2 linked regions of the Homo sapiens genome follow. The protein of the gene in region 1 binds, or shares a complex with, the protein of each later gene. Each region holds a gene or a part of one and is shown in the gene's direction. Other genes may lie near its edges. The genes, in order: PDK3 and DLAT.

Region 1 (8,731 bases):
TAGTGGAATTTGCTAGAAGTGACAAGGCTAGTTTGTAACACCCAGAGATGAATCAGGTGCTAATCAGCCTATCTTTAATGACAGGACAACTAAAAGACGGGAGTTGTTGCAAAAAGGCCATCTCTACTTCTACTTTTCTCTTAGTTCTGTCTCTTGATAGCAGTTCTATTTTGGCAATTGATGTGGGAGTTGGAGAATTCAGAATGGGTGTGGGATATTTTTAAGGTGAGGAGAGAGGAGGAGTGAAGAGGCTTCATGCCCCTGTATGATTAGAGAAAACTGCAGGAGAGGGCCAACTCAGGCACTTAAAGCACCAGGTAGTGGGCAGTGGATAAGTGAATGAAGCCAACGAGTTGAGGACCGTGATAAATTCCTGGTATATAGCTAGCTCCAAAGGGGCAGCTGATTGGCACCAATTCAGTATATTTCAAGAGAACTTTGGCATAAACAAAATAGATGGATGGATCAAGTTGGCCCACAGGCTGCTAGTTTATGAACTTGATGCCTTTCTCCATGGGTACTTTACAAATGGGACGTACATTTTGACTAGAGTAACTAGACAGGGACCAGAGAAAGGAGATACACAGGATATACACAATTTGTTACAACCTTGATAAATAGGCTTTCTTATGTGGATGTACTGCACATCAGTAAATAAGGAGATTATTTGCTATGTTCAAAAGTGGAGGCTAAAACTTGTTGTTACTTCAGAAGCTGTGCTTTTATTTTAAAGCAGGGGTTCCTGAGCCTCAGCACTCTTGCCATTTCAGGCCAGGTAATTTTGGTAGGAGCTGTCTTGTGCACTGTGGGAAGTTGAGCTACATCCCTGGCCTCTACCCACTAGATGCCATGAGCACCTCCCACTCCAAGTCGTGACAACCAAACATGTCTCCAGTCATTGCCAAATGTCCCCTGGGGGAGCAAAATGTCCCCTGGACTTCTGTTGAATCACTGTTTGGAAGTGTTTACTTGAGTGGTTTTCAGGCCAGGGCCTCATACTCTGAATTTTTGTTGTAAATGGTCTGGGGGTGCTGGGGGTGGAGAGCAGAGCACTGGTATTTTTAGGAGATCCCCCTGTCATTCTAAAGCATATCCAGGGTTAAGCACCATTAATCAGATGATCTTCTGTCTGATCTGCTGGCCCCCTTTCATCTATGTGCAGTATTTTTCTCTATGCTTTTTAAAATAATGAAAGTTTCTTGAACTCCATCTTGACTTGAAATATAGCCTGCCACACAGTTAGCAAATATAGCAAGAATAACAAGTGTTCTAAATGGATTTTTAATTTATTATGGCAATAGTACATTCCAAAGGGTGGCATTTTTTAAAATGAGATTTTTCTTTTGGGCCTAAGATTACAGTCACATGGTTCCAAATTCAGAGGGTTCAAAAGGACACAGAAAAGCCTGCTTCCCACTTGTGCCCACTGGCCTCCCCTTTTTTCGCATAAATGGCAGTTTATAGCTTTGTCTGTTCCTTGTTTTTTGAGCTTAATACCTTAGAGACAGATTTTTGTATATCTGTACCTGCAGAACTTTGTTTTTCTTTTTTATGGCTTCTGAGAATTTGGTTATATGAATGTACCAGAATTTATTAGCAACTTTCCCTATTGATGGCTACAATTAATAGGTTGTTTCTAGACTTTGCTGTGGCAACCTGCCCTCCAGTGAATTATTATATGCATTGTCATTTCATGCATGTCCGCGTGTATCTGTAGGACAGATTCCTAAACGTGAGATTGCTACATCAGCAGGTATGTGCATTTGTAATTTTGGCGAACATTGTCAAATTGCTTTCCATAAAGGTTGTTTGTTTTCCCCCTCGCTAGAAGTTTCTGAGAGTACCTGTTTTCCTATGCCTTCACCACATTGTTGTCAAACTTTTGATAGGTAAAAAAAAAATGATATATCTAGATAGAATTTTTTTCTCCTTGAGTAAAGATGTCTTTATTTTAGTTTTTTATTGTGGAAATTAAAAAAAAAAACTTAGGTGGGTGCCTGTAATTCCAGTGCTTTGAGAGGCCAAGACAGAGGATGGCTTGAGACCAGGAGTTTGAGGCCAGCCCTGGGCAACATAGTGAGATCCTGTCTCTAAAAAAAATAATAATAATAAATAAATAAGATTAGCCAGGAGTGGTGGTATCGCACACCTGGGGTCTTAGCTACTCAGGAGGCTGAGACAGGAGGATGGCTTGAGCCCAGATTGAAGCTGCAGTGAGCTGTGTTTCTGCCACTGCACTCCAGCCTGGGGGATGTACATGTATAGGTAAATACATATATAAATTTTATTGTGTATAATTAAGGTATACAACATGATGTTATGGGATACATATAGTTAAAAGGTTACTACAGTGAAATTAACATATCTATCATCTCACATAGTTACCCTTTTTTATTTTTGTGGCAAGGTCAGCTAAAATCTACTCATTTAGCATGAATCCCATATACAGTACAATTTTATTATCTATTATATATTCTTCATGTTGTGCATTAGATCTCTAGACCTTAAACATTTACAGAAGTAGAGAGAATAGAATGATGAACTCCTGGGTTTGTTTTATTGATATCCATTTGCTATTTGTCTGTAGATGTTGTATGTGTGGTCTGTTAGATTTTCTGATCAAAGTCATGCTTGTTTCAAAAAGATAAATTTTTGTTTTCAAAAAGATAAATTTTTTTCTTTTCCTATGCTAAGACTAATTTATCTTTTGAATTATCTGGTTCTTAAAGATTTGGTAGAACTTCATATGAAAGTGTTTAAGCCTGTATGTTTTGGGGAGTTTTGCTCTCTGATAGCTTTCTCTATTCTGTGTTATTGATCTCTGTAGATTTTCTGTCTCTTCTAGAGTCCATTTTGATATATTTTTCTTGAAAATTATCCTACTTGGCTAGGCGCGGTGGCTCATGCCTGTAATCCCAGCACTTTGGGAGGCCAAGGCAGGTGGATCACATGGGGTTGGGAGTTTGAGACCAGCCTGGCCAACATGGTGAAACCTCGTCTCTACTAAAAATACAAACATTAGCTGGGCATAGTGGTGGGTGCCTGTAATCCCAGCTACTGGGGAGGCTGAGGTAGGAGAATTGCTTGAACCCAGGAGGCGGAGGTTGCAGTGAGCCAAGATCATGCCCTTGTACTCCAGCCTGGGTGACAAGAGTGAAACGGCATCTCAAAAAAAAAAAAAAAAAAAAAAAGAAGAAAAGAAAAAAAGAAAATTATCCTACTCATTGAGGTTTTTAAGTCAGTTTGGATAGCTGAGATAGTTGTCACTGAACAGTCTTAATTTTCCCTGTGACATTTGTCCCCCCCCTTCTTCTTGAGTAGGTTAGTTGATGATTTATTGGGTTGGATTTATTAGTTTTATGACTTTTGTTATCTAGTTTATTGTCTGATTTGACTTTAATAATTCCTTCTGGTCTCAGGTTTATTTTGTTCTTTTAAAAATTAGGTGCTTTCTGTTCTCACTCATAAGTGGGAGTTGAACAATGAGAACACATGGACACGGCAAGGGGAACATCACACACCAGGGCCTGTCGGGAGGTGGGGGGGCTAGGGGAGAGATAGCATTAGGAGAAATACCTAATGTAGATGACAAGTTGATGGGTGCAGCAAACCACCATGGCACGTGTATACCTATGTAACAAACCTGCACGTTCTGCACATGTACCCCAGAACTTAAAGTATAATAAAAAAAATTAAATGCTTTCTTCTTTGTCTTGTTTATTTCAATGTTTAAGGTTAGTTATTCCTCTGAGCACTGCTTTAGCAGCTGATGTGTGTATTTGGTCTTTTTTCTCTTAGCTCTTCTGTGTCTTCAGGTTTTTATTTTCCTATGAATGAAGAGTTGTTTGGAGGAGTTAAAAATTTCCAGTGAAGGTGCATTCTGCATTTTAATTTTATTTATGTCTAGTTTTGTTGCACTGTGATTACAGAATGTTGTCTGAATTATTCTCTAATTTATTGATGTTAACTTTGAAGCTCATTATATGGTTGTTTTCTGTGAATGTTCCTTGGGCAGCGAAAAGAAGGTTATACTCTCTTCTCAGGTTGCAGAGTGTGATATGTCAGCTCTGCAATATTATGTTATTTAGGTTTTGTGTAACTTTACTTTTTTTATCCACCTGATTTGTCATGGATCAAACACAAGAGAAGTTAAAGTCTCCTAATAATGATTCTCTTTCTCCGTATAGCTCCTATTGTTTTTGCTTTATGACTATCAGTGTTATGTTTGATGCTTATTAACTCACATCCTCATTGTGAGATATACCCATTAGCATTAGAGTGCTGCCCTTTTACTAGTTGAAGGCTTTTTGGCCTGGATTCGTCCTTATTTGACATTGAGATCTAGTTCCCTATTTTCTTGTTTACATTTCCTGGGATAGCATTGCCATCCTTTTATTTTCAGTTTTTCTGAATTACTTCGCTCTAAATATGTCTCTAAATGTAGTGTAAAGTTGGGTTTTGCTTTGTGAATCAGTCTTTTTCATGTGGTAAGTTTAACCTATTTATACTTACTGGTATGATAGATCTGTCATCTGTAATGATAAGCATTTGTAATTTTCTGTTGCTTTCTGTTTTTAATACCTCAGTTTTCCTATGTTATATATTTGCTTTGTTTTGCCATATTTATTTTAATAAATAACTAGGCTTGAATTTTTGGTTCTAGTGGTTATCTTTATAGTTATTACTTTATTTCTATAGACCTTTGTCCCATATGGGTCACCACTTGTCAGCCAGGAGACCTTTGAGCACTTGAAATGTGGCTAGTGTGGCCGAAAAACTGAATTGACTTAATTTAAATTTAAAATGGATACTTGATGCAGTTAATTTTTACATCTGTGTAGAATAACTTGGATATGGAATCCACTTTATCACCTGTAAATTTTAGGAAATCTCTTTATAGGTCAATTATTTCTGATAGAAATTTAGCCTCTGAATTGAGATGTGCTTTCAGTATAAAATACACACTGGATTTCAAAGACTTAATATAAAAATAGTAAAATATCAGTACATCTTATATTGATTGCATGTTGAAATGGTAATATTTTAGATATGTTGGGTTAAATGGAATATTATCAAAAACTTTATTTCTTTTTTATGTTAATGTGGCTACTAGGAAATTTTAAATTATATATATGGCTTACATATTTCTTTCTTTCTTTTTTTTTTTTTTTTTTTTTTTTTTGTGAGACGGAGTTTTTGCTCATGTTGCCCAGGCTGGAGTGCAATGGTGCGATCTGGGCTCACCGCAACCTCCGCCTCCCAGGTTCAAGTGATTCTCCTGCCTCAGCCTCCCAAGTAGCTGGGATTACAGGCATGCGCCTACATGCCCAGCTAATTTTGTATTTTTAGTAGAGATGGGGTTTCTCCATGTTGGTCAGGCTGGTCTTGAACTCTCGACCTCAGGTGATCTGCCCACCTCAGCCTCCCAAAGTGCTAGGATTACAGGCATGAGCCACAGCCCCTGGCCTGGCTCACATATTTATATTGGACAGTGTGGCTTCAGATAATATATGTTAATTCCTTATTGGGAGCAATGAAAACATCACATTTTAATGTTCAGAATAAACATTTATTGGCTGGGTGCAGTGGCTCACGCCTGTAATCCCAGCACTTTGGGAGGCCGAGGTGGGTGGATCACGAGGTCAAGAGATTGAGACCATCCTGGCCAACGTGGTGAAACCCCGTCTCTACTAAAAATACAAAAATTAGCCAGGCATGGTGGTGGGCGCCTATAGTCCCAGGTACTCGGGAGGCTGAGGCAGGAGAATTACTTGAACCTGGGAGGTGGAGGTTGCAGTGGGCCAAGATTGCGCCACTGCACTCCAGCCTGGCTAGAGTGAGACTCCGTCTCAAAAAACAAAACAAACAAACAAACAAAAACAAAAAAACCAACCACACATTTGTTGAATTTATTTATTTATTTATTTACTTATTTGAGACAGAGTCTCACTCTGTCACCTAGGCCAGAGTGCAACGGCTTGGTCTTGGCTCACTGCAACCTCTGCCTCCCGGGTTCAGGTGATTCTCCTGCCTCAGCCTCCCGAGTAGCTGGGATTACAGGTGTCTGCCACCACGCCTGGCTTATTTTTGTATTTTTAGTAGAGACGGGGTTTTGCCCTATTGCCCAGGCTGGTCTCGAACTCCTGACCTTAGGTGATCTACCCGCCTCTGCCTCCCAAAGTGCTGGGATTACAGGCATGAGTCACCGTGCCTGGCCTGAATTTATTTCCTGAAATATAACTTTCACATGTCTTGTTCCATATTTTTTTCTATAAACCTCTCTGGATTTTTGGATCAATGTATTGTTTTTGACTGGCAGTTAATGTTATGGTGGCTCCTTGTTATATTTGCACAAATTTGAGTTCTCTTTCCCTTAAGCAGTTGTGATAAATTAAAAATTCTCTTAATTATATAAGAAAAGGAGAACTTGGACTATTATGGCATAAAGATAGAACCTTCTGAATGTTGAATGAGTTGGTAGGAAATGATTCACATTTTCTTTTGGACTTGCTTTTCATCTTTCAGTCTCGCCCTGTCGGCTTCTGGTTCCCATATTAACCACTTTTCTCCCCTCCCTGCAGACTGACGTCCCATTTGTTTGATTTTCCAGTTACTTTTGCACAGCCACACTTGCATTAAAGAGATTTTGCTCCTGCCTCCTTTTCTTAGATTTTATCCTCAATTGTCTCTTTCCAAAGGGCAGGCGCTCACCTCTTTTTTGTAACCTCTTACAGCTTCCTCAGCTCAGCTTGCTCTGCACAGAGCAGGTGCTCCATAAATGGCAATTACTGATGGCATGCCTGACTCCATATCGAGGTTATTAAACATTATGCCACTTTCATTTAGTCAGTTATATAAGTTTATTTTATTTATTTATTTATTTATTTATTTATTTATTTATTTATTTATTTTGAGACGGAGTCTCACTCTGTCGCCCAGGCTAGAGTGCAGTGGCACCATCTCGGCTCACTGCAACCTCCGCCTCCCAGGTTCAAGCAGTTCTCGTGCCTCAGCCTCCCGAGTACCTGGGACTACAGGCATGCGCCACCACGCCCGGCTAATTTTTGTATTTTTAGCAGAGACGGGGTTTCACCGTCTTGGCCAGGCTGGTCTCGAACTCCTGACTTCAGGTGATCCACCCGCCTCTGCCTCCCAAAGTGTTGGGATTACAGACGTGAGCCACTGTGCCCAGCCAAGTTTAAACTTCCATAGTGTCCCCATGTGTAAATATAGCATCTCTCAAAACCACCAGAAAGCAGATTGCTGATAGCCCTGCCGTCTTTTCACAAAACTAAATATTTTGATTTCTGTCATAATCACACCGGCTCTGTGAACCTCAGAGCCTTTAGCTCTTAGAAGGTAGCGGCCAGTTTCCGCATTCTTACTATTCTTAAAGTTTAAGGGCCCAGCCATCTTCTTTTCCTTTAGAACATATTTTAAGATACTTTGGAGATACTTTGGTTCCAAATGACTCCCTTTCGCAAAGTCTTGGCTTTTTAAGTCATTTTGCTCCTTGAAGCCTGATCACCACTGGGGACAACAGTGATTGCGTTCTTGGAGAAAATGGAAAGGTTTTTAAAAAAATTATGTTAGGAAAAGGGAAAAACAATCTCATTCTGCTTCCGAGTGTGTTTATTTTGTACCTTTACATATGTAAATGACAGATTTTTTTTTTTTTTCCCTGTAAGCAGTAGTTTTTCTGCTACAAGGTGTCACCAAGAATTAGACCAACCTGTTTGGAGAAAGGGATCAACTATTCAGAATTAAAGGGGAAGAGAAAAATTTAGTTGAGGGTAAAGATATCTAACTTGGCTTATTGCATCTTGACCAGTTTTTAAATTTAAAGAAAGAATTGGTCCAGGCACTGTGGCTAATGCCTGTAATCCCAGCATTTTGAGAGGCTGAGGCAGGAGGATCGCTTGAGTCCAGGAGTTTGAGACCAGCTCGGGCAACACAGTGAGACCCCTGTCTCTACAAAAAAATAAAAAAATTATCCAGGCATAGTGGTGCACCCCTGTGGTCCCGGCTACATGGGAAGCTGAGATGGGAGGATCGCTTGAGCCTGGGAAGTTGAGGCTGCAGTGAGCTGGGATCGCGTCACTGCACTCCAGCCTGGACAATAGAGCAAGACCATGTCTCAAAAAAAGAAGGAGGGAGGGAAGTAGAAAGGGAAGGAAAGAAGGGAGGAAAGGTAGAAGACGGAAGGAGGAAAGGAAGGAAAGAAGGGAGGAAGTGAGGGCTTTTTGGGCCTTTAAGATCTGATAAGGCTGCATTTTAACATGGCGTGGTTTATCTGGCTCTGGGGCAGCTCTCAGGCACCAAAGTCATGGCTTTGGCCTCACTGTCTTTGTAGCACTTATGTTTTGTGTGCTTTTGAAAGTGGAGACAGCTGCAGTTACTGATCTATTGATGGTTGGGTGGTTTCCTCCCATTAAGCTTTTGGAAAATTGATCAGACTGTTGGCAAGGTTTGGGAAACCTTGGTTTTGTTACTGGATGGAATCTGAAAATATCACTGCTTTTTCTTTTCCTGTATATGTATAGGCATTCCATTATTTTACTTCCATGGTAATCTGATTTTAGAGTTGGGCAAATCCTTTTATTTTAGGAATACCCTGGTCTAAGAATGTCAACCTATAGCCTGAGGGCTGGCCACCTGTTTTTTTTTTTCTAATTAATAGACTGTTTTTTAAAAAGAGTACAGTTCGTCCTCCATATCTGTGGGTTCCACA
Region 2 (8,731 bases), on another chromosome or scaffold:
GACGGAGAGGGAGAGGGAGAGGGTAAGTTGTTTTAAAGTAACGGAGATGAGTTCGAAGAGACTGGCTTTGCCTAATTGACTGAACATTGACTTTCTGGATGTGTAGCTACCCCTTTGTTTAAGAAACTGAAGTGTTTTTCACAACTTGATGTTAGACAAGATTGGTTGGATAAGTTGTCAGCAGCTGGCCAAACTGATTTTAACCAAGGCGTTTCTAAAGTAATTTCTTCTTTGAAATCTGTCGTAGTGGCCTTATCTTCACATGAACTGTATAATTCTAGACACAAAGGCCAGGCTGGCCAACATGGTGAAACCCCGTCTCTGCTAAAAATACAAAAATCAGCCGGGCATGGCAGCCTGTTCCTGTAATCCCAGCTACTCGGGAGGCTGAGGCAGGATAATCGCTTGAACCTGGGAGGGGGAGGTTGCAATGAGCCGAGATTGCACCACTGCACTCCAGCCTTGGTGACAGAATGAGACTCTGTGTCTCAAAAAAAAAAAAAAAAAAAAAAAAATTCTAGACACAAGCTAATAAATTACATACCAACAGTACAAACCTGAGCTACTGCTTTTTGTGTTAAAAGGTTGAAACTGATAAAGCCACTGTTGGATTTGAGAGCCTGGAGGAGTGTTATATGGCAAAGATACTTGTTGCTGAAGGTACCAGGGATGTTCCCATCGGAGCGATCATCTGTATCACAGTTGGCAAGTGAGTAGTGCGCTCATAATTTGTGGAACTTCATTGCTTGGTGGAGTATTTTACCCAGAATTGAGAATTAGGAGTTAAAGACTATTTTTTAAGACTACTTTTGTGAAAGCTGAATCTGCCCATTATATTTATGCATTCTTTCTCTTCCTTAGGCCTGAGGATATTGAGGCCTTTAAAAATTATACACTGGATTCCTCAGCAGCACCTACCCCACAAGCGGCCCCAGCACCAACCCCTGCTGCCACTGCTTCGCCACCTACACCTTCTGCTCAGGCTCCTGGTAGCTCATATCCCCCTCACATGCAGGTGAGGCTCAGCCTCTGAGTTTTTGCTCTAGGTGATTACTTACTTACTCACTTTTTTTCATAGATGGCTACTACATCTTGGAAACTGACATTAAATGTGGTTAGGTCTTGTCATTTGGGAGTATATAGGTTTAAACATGAAGATTGACAACTATTCTTCCTGGTTGTTATTTCCAGTTATAAGAACTTGAACAGTTCCTGTAACCTTTCTCAGCCTCAGTGTAGTACACAGGGTAATGCGTGGCACTTTTCATTCAAGAACATTACATTACAGATTTTGAGGATGATTTTTACTAACATCTATTCCCTGTATAATTAGAGTTTATAGCAGGCTGTGTTAGTCTGTTTTACTTTGGCATGAAGAAATACCTAGGGCTGGGTAATTTATAAAGAAAAAAGGTTCATTTGGCTCAAGGTTCTGCAGGCTGTACAAGAAGCAGGGCGCCAGCATCTGTTTCTCTTGTGGCCACAGGAAGCTTACAATCATGGTGGAAGTTGGAAGGGAAAGGGGAAGGGTGGTGTGTCCCATGAGAGAGGGAACAAGAGACAGAGGGGAGTGGGTAACCAGGCTCTTTATAGCAATCAGATTTCCCCTTAACTCATTACCATGGGGCATGCAGCAAGCCATTCACGAGGGATCCTCCTCCAATACCCAGACACCTGCCACCAGACCCCATCTCTAACATTGGGGATCATATTTCTTTTTTTTTTTTTCCACATACAAAAAAACTTTATTTACACAGTCTTGGATTCTGAATCTCCAGTACTTCCAGGGTCTCTTGATCAAATGGGGCAGCAGCAGGCAGGGAAGCAAACACAGGGGCCAGTCCAGATTATCTTACTCAAGAACACCACCAAGAAGGGAAGGCCTAATTCAGTCTTGGTCTGGACTACATCTCCCCGCACTTTGAGATCACCACAGTAGTTTGGGCTTATTGTTGGGGCCTGTGGGAACATTCTGAATCTTTCTCATCACTAGAAGTCCATCAGTGATTTTTCCAAACATTACATGCTTCCCATCCAGCCAATCACACTTAGAGCAGGTGATAAAGAACTGACAGCCATTTGTACTGGGACCGCTGTTTGCCGTGGAAAGCAGGCCTGGAGCTGAGTGTCTAAGTTTAAAATTTTCGTCTGCGAATGTCTCCTGGTAAATACTGGCGACTCCAGTACCATCTCCATTAACAAAATCTCCACCCTAAATCATGAAATCCTTTATGACCCTGTGGAAAGTGCTTCCTTTGTATCCTATTGGAACCCCATCTTTTCTGAATTCTCTAGTGCAGAACTACCCAAAGTTCTCGGTCGTCTTAGGCACAACGTCTGCAGAGAGCTCGATCTTTGTGCGGCCAACTTCCTGACTGCCATTGCTGACATCAAAGAACACCATGGGGTTAGCAGGGCTTGAAGTTGCCACCACCATGGCTCTGACCCGGAAACGGAAGTCGGGGGATCATATTTCAGCATGAGATTTGGAGGGGACAGACATCCAAGCTGTATCATAGGTGTCAAGTGCTGTCTGTTGAATGAAAGTCCCCAGTTGGTGTTCTTTTGACATGTGGTGATCTATTTTCCAAGAGTGGGTGAAGTAGTCCAATAGTATTAATAAATGAGAAAACTGACAAAAGTTAAGTGTAAGATACACATATGTAATAGTGTTGCATCAAAGTTGAAGGCAGTGAATGTAATCACTGTTGATTGTGCTAACTAAATCAGTTTCTAAGAAACTAAGTCAGTTTATTAGGTATTAGGGTTATCGTCTGTATATTTGTGTGCTTTAGATGTTAAAAGTGGATAAAAATCCAGCCGTCCTTTTCTAAATAATTCTGACTGGCATTTCTCCTTAATCTAGTTTATTTGTAGAAATTTTTGTATAGGAATCTTTTTCTCCTTTGGAAATAATGTTCTACTCCATGGTCTGTTAGTAACAATCATTTAGGATTTTTTGCCAGGTGTTCAGTTCACACATGTATTACATGCTGTTCGGCAAATTCTATCTCATGATGTAAGACTGACTTAATTTTCCTCTACTTTGTGTCTGTAGCTTTGTGTGCATGTGTTAGGGTTTTACCTTAATTATTCTTTAAGATACTGAATTGGATTCTGAATCTCTGATAGTATTCTTTAAGATACTGTATAGAGATTATTGGCTTCACTGTTTCTTAAGAAGCAGATGAAGATGGCAAATTCTGCACAAAAAAAGCACTTACAATTTTTTTTCTAAGGCTTGTCTTACTTTCCCCTCTCTGGAAACATCTTCAATTGAAGTTATTTTCCTCTCCGCATAATCCTGTTGCTAATCAGATACAGAAGACAAAGAGGATAGCAAATGAAACCAAATTCAGTGGATACACAAGCCATATAAATAGTAAAGCAATTTTACATTTAGATAGGCATTCTGATGTTTGGATATTATTGGGGTGGAAATGGCTATTATAAAAACAGGGCTTTTTTTACCCCTGGTTTTTTATTTTTATTTATTTATTTTTTGAAACAGGGTCTCACTCCATCACCTAGGCTGGAGTGCAGTGGCATGATTTCGGCTCACTGCAACCTCTGCCTCCTGGGTTCAAGCGATTCTCCTGCCTCAGCCTCCCGACTAGCTGGGAATACATGCACATACCACCACACCTAGCTATTTTATTTTTTGAGATAGGGTCTCACTCTTCACCTAGGCTGGAGTGCAGTGGTGCAATCTTAGCTCACTGTAGCCTTGACCTCCTGGCTCAAGCCATCCTCCCACCTCAGCCTCCCAAGACGCTGTGACTACAGGCACGTGCCACCATGCCCAGCTAATTTTTTTTTTTTTTTTTTTTTAAGAGATGAGGTTACATCATGTTGCTCAGGCTGGTCGTGAACTCCTGGGCTCAAGTGATCCTCCTGCATCAGCCTACCAAAATGCTGAGATTATAGGCATGAGCCACCATGCTGGTCTTTCCTGTTTTTTTTTTTTTTTTTTTTTTTTTTTTTTGAGACAGTCTTGCTCTGTCACCATGGCTGGAGTGTAGTGGCACGATCTTGGCTCACGGCAACCTCTGCGATTCTCATGCCTCAGCCTCCTGAGTAGCTGGGACTACAGGTGGGTGTCACCATGCCCAGCTAATTTTGGTATTTTTAGCAGAGGAGGGGGTTTCGACATGATGGCCCGGCTGGTCTTGAACTCCTGGCCTCAAGTGATCCGCCCCTCCCAAGTGATCCTTGGCCTCCCAAAGTGCTGGGATTACAGATGTGAACAGCTGTGCCTGGCCTCCTGTTTTATTTTTTTGAATGATCATCATGCCACTGCACTCCAGGCTGGGCAACAGAGTAAGACTCCATCTCAAAAAAAAAAAAAATTATCAAATAAAATTCTGTGTAAGAATTCTGTGTACATATATTATATACAACAAGTTGTTTTGAAATATGTATATATTGTGGAATGGCTAGATTGAGCTAATTTATATATGCATTACTTTATAGACTTATCTTTTAGGCCACTTAAAAATCTACTGTCAGGAATTTACAAGAATACAATACATTGTTATTAACTATTGTCACCAAATAATGTTTTTTTTTTTAATATGGAATGCTTCACGAATTTGTTGTCCTTGCGCAGGGGCCATGCTAATCTCTATATCGTTCCAATTTTAGTATATGTGTTGCTGAAGCGAGCACAGAACAGTTCTTAATATTACGTTTTTATCTTGGAAAGATATCTGGTAAGGTTGGGACAAATGCAGTTTCCTGTGGGTAAAAAATAGGTAGATGCTAAGTACAGAGCGCAGTAAAATTTTAACAGAATGGTTTGGACCAAGGTCATTTTGTGAAAATGAAAAACTTCTTGGTTAAAAAAAAATGAAGTCTGGGCGCGGTGGCTCACGCCTGTAATCCCAGCACTTTGGGAGGCCAGGGCGGGCGGATTACTTGTGGATGGGCGTTCAGAGACCAGCCTGGCCAACATGGTAAAACCCCATCTCTACAAAAATACAAAAATTAGTGGGCATGATGGCACCCGCCTGTAATCCAGCTACTCGGGAGGCTGAGGCAGGAGAATCACTTGAAACCAGGAGGTGGAGGTTGCAGTGAGCCGAGATTGCGCCATTGCTCTCCAGCCTGGGGGACAGAGCAAGACTCTGTCTCAAAATAAAAATAAAAATAAAAATAGATGAAAAGATGCTCCATACTTAGATGTTGAGAAATTAATTTTGACTGTCTGAAAGAAATCTTTCCCATGTGCTTGTTGCATTTAACTTGGAGTGTGTGTTAGAGTGTGGGCGAGAGTATAAGAGTATGGGTCAGAGTATGAGATTTGAAGGATGATTTACCTGGTGGGAAGCTATTGAGGTGTGAAGCTTTTGCTGTGGTGAGTATTTGGATTATCATAGTCACCATCATTCTATGAAACCACATAAGTCTGCCAGACTTTTATTATGTAGAAGTCTTCCTGGTATTAAGCAATAATATGTGTTTGTTTCTGCAGGTACTTCTTCCTGCCCTCTCTCCCACCATGACCATGGGCACAGTTCAGAGATGGGAAAAAAAAGTGGGTGAGAAGCTAAGTGAAGGAGACTTACTGGCAGAGATAGAAACTGACAAAGCCACTATAGGTGAGATTTCTTCAGCTCTTAATGGTTGAGGCACTGAGTTTCCCAATGAGGAAGAGGATTGCCATTCTTTCCTATAATGAGTGAGTGATAATATGAAAACTTTATAATTCTTAGGATTCATTTTCTGGGACAGAATATTTTATTTTTATTTAGTTATATGTATTCTTTAGTTTTTATTTATTTATTTGTTTATTTGCTTATTTTTCAGACAGGGTCTTAATCTGTTGCCCAGGCTGGAGTGCGGTGGCAAGATCATAGCTCATTGTAGCCTTGAACTCCTGGGCTTATGCCCAAATGATCCTCCTGCTTTAGCCTCACAAGTAGGTAGGACTACAGGCCTGAACCACCACACCTAGCTGATTTTTTAAATTTTTTGTAGAGATGGGGTCTCACTTTATTGCCCAGGCTGGTTTTGAACTCCTGGCTCAAGCGATCCTCCTGCCTTGGCCTCTCAAAGTGCTGGGACTCCAAGCGTGAGCCCCTGTTCCTGGCCCAGCATAATTTATAACAAAAATAATGCGTAGTCAGATTTGTCAGTTCCATCCTGTGCTCACTGAATCAAAGGCAATCAATCTGTCAATTCACAGATTATTTTTAGGCCCAAGTTTGCTTCTTGGCCTTATTATGTTACTGAGAAGCTATATCAGAATTGCTGCTGTCTAAACTAGGCAAAGGAAGTCAAGAAGAAACAGGAGAAAATCACTTCCATGGCAGGATAATAGCAAAGAATTTAAGATGACTTTGAGGGAAAACTGAAACCAGGGTTGAGATTGTTTTCATAGTTTGAGAATGACTGATAGAATGTATGTGTGTAATATATATATGTTCAGATATGTCATATGTCCACATATCTCCTTCTTAATTCATTTTTAGGCTAAAAAAACCCATATAGACAATAATATATTTATTATTATTATTTTTTTTTTTTTTGAGACGGAGTCTCGCTGTGTTGCCCAGGCTGGAGTGCAGTGGCGCAGTCTCAGCTCACTGCAAGCTCCACCTCCTGGGTTCACGCCATTCTCCTGCCTCAGCCTCCCGAGTAGCTGGGACTACAGGTGCCCGCTGCCACGCCTGGCTAATTTTTTGTATTTTTAGTAGAGATGGGGTTTCACTGTGTTAGCCAGGATGGCCTTGATCTCCTGACCTCGTGATCCACCTGTCTTGGCCTCCCAAAGCGCTGGGATTACAGGCGTGAGCCATGGCGATTTGTAGTATTATGAATTTCTTCTCTCTGCACCCCCGCTTTTTCTTTTTTTTTTTTGAGACAGAGTTTTGCTCTGTCACCCAGGCTTGAGTACAGTGGTGCGATCTTGGCTTACTGCAGCCTCCGCCTCCTGGGTTCAAGCAATTCTCCTGCCTCAGCCTCCCGAGTAGCTGGGACTACAGGCATGCACCACCATGCCTGGCTAATTTTTTGCATTTTTAGTAGAGATGGAGTTTCACCATGTTGGCCAGGCTGGTCTCGAGCTCTTTAACCTCAGGTGATCTGCCTGCCTCGGCCTCCCAAAGTGCTGGGATTACAGGCATAAGCCACCGCACCCAGCCTCTCTGCTTCATAATCACCACCAAAGGGAAGCCTTTCCCAAAGATGTAATGGGAGGTACTGGGCATCCTCTGCCTTGGTTGTTTTCAGATTGTGTTCTTCAAATCCCATCATTCCTTTAAGGCACCTTGAGGCAAAGGGGGAATTAAAGAGCAGGACCTTACAGCCCTGCCTCCCTGCCTTACTTCCAGCAGAGCAGTTCTTTTCTATCTTTTTGTATTTTGTGCTTCCCCATAAATTTTATTTGAAGAAAGGATTCTGTTTCTTAAAAACACAGAAACTTTGGAAACAGTAGTTCTGCTTCACCATTTAACTTGAATACCAGTGTCACTATAGAGACTAGTCACTAGAGAAGTGTTACCTTGGTTGAACTTTGAAGTCTATTGTGGCCCAGGAGCCTTTTCATTTTAAACACTTCTTTTTTTTTTTTTTGGAAACAGAGTCTGGCTCTGTTGTCCAGGCTGGAGTGCGGTGGCGTGATCTCGGCCCACCACAACCTCTGCCTCCTGGGTTCAAGCGATTCTCCTGCCTGAGCCTCCTGAGTAGCTGGGACTACAGGTGCATGCCACTACGCCCGGCTAATTTTTGTATTTTTAGTAGAAATGTGGTTTCACTATGTGGGCCAGGCTGGTCTTGAACTCCTGACCTCGTGATCTGACTGCCTTGTGCCTCCCAAAGTGCTGGGATTACAGGCGTGAGCCACCACCGCACCCAGCCTTTTTTTTTTTTTTTTTTGAGATAGAGTCTTGCTTTGTCGCCCAGGCTGGAGTGCAATGGCATGATCTTGGCTCACTGCAATTTCCACCTCCCGGGTTCAAGCAATTCTCCTGCCTCAGCTGCCCAAGTAGCTGGGATTACAGGCGCCTGCCACCATGCCTGGCTAATTTTTGTATTTTTAGTGGAGATGGGGTTTCACCATGTTGGCCAGGCTGGTCTTGAACTCCTGACCTCAGGTAATCCACCTACCTTGGCCTCCCAAAGTGCTGGGATAACAGGCGTGAGCCACCGTGCCCAGCCTTAAACATATATATATATATCTCCAGACTTAAACATATATATATGTGTGTGTATATATATATATGTGTGTGTATATATGTGTGTGTGTGTGTGTGTGTGTGTGTGTGTGTGTTTTTTTTTTTTTTTTTTTTTTTTTTTTTGAGACGGAGTTTCGCTCTTGTTGCCCAGGCTGGAGTGCAATGGCACGATCTCGGCTCACCACAACCTCCACCTCCTGGGTTCAAGTGATTTTCTTGCCTCAGCCTCCCGAGTAGCTGGGATTACAGGCATGCGCCACCATGCCTGGCTAATTTTGTATTTTTAGTAGAGACGGGGTTTCTCCACGTTGGTCAGGCTGGTCTCGAACTCCCGACCTCAGGTGATCCACCCGCCTCGGTCTCCCAAAGTGCTGGGATTACAGGCATGAGCCGCCGCGCCCAGCCTAAACATATTTTTTATTGGGTATTCTCAGCTGGGAAATGGAAGGATTCATCAAAGATGTGTTCATCAAGGAGAGGCACAACAGTACAGAAAGCCAATGGCTTCTTTTAGTTTTACTTTTGCAATCCTAAATGTTTAAGTTCTTTGCAAG

Evidence for each region.
Region 2: the proteins of PDK3 (region 1) and DLAT are in contact, whole or in part, in a crystal structure (PDB 1Y8N), measured with the Homo sapiens proteins. Residues at the interface, in NP_005382.1 of Homo sapiens: Arg21, Phe22, Ser23, Pro24, Ser25, Pro26, Leu27, Phe48, Lys51, Val55, Asn373, Lys374, Ser375, Arg378; in NP_001922.2 of Homo sapiens: Ala225 (codon at 5,486), Leu226 (codon at 5,489), Ser227 (codon at 5,492), Pro228 (codon at 5,495), Thr229 (codon at 5,498), Glu248 (codon at 5,555), Gly249 (codon at 5,558), Lys259 (codon at 5,588), Ala260 (codon at 5,591), Ile262 (codon at 5,597), Glu265.

The regions. Positions count from the first base shown.
Region 1 is NC_000023.11:24,467,520-24,476,250, forward strand, and holds part of PDK3 (pyruvate dehydrogenase kinase, isozyme 3 isoform 2 precursor), read left to right. Parts: intron 1-8,731. UniProt on the Homo sapiens protein: Inhibits pyruvate dehydrogenase activity by phosphorylation of the E1 subunit PDHA1, and thereby regulates glucose metabolism and aerobic respiration. Can also phosphorylate PDHA2.
Region 2 is NC_000011.10:112,027,931-112,036,661, forward strand, and holds part of DLAT (dihydrolipoyllysine-residue acetyltransferase component of pyruvate dehydrogenase complex, mitochondrial isoform 2 precursor), read left to right. Parts: intron 1-584; coding exon 585-709; coding exon of another isoform or gene 710-713; intron 714-861; coding exon 862-1,015; intron 1,016-1,731; exon of another isoform or gene 1,732-2,461; intron 2,462-5,473; coding exon 5,474-5,600; intron 5,601-8,731.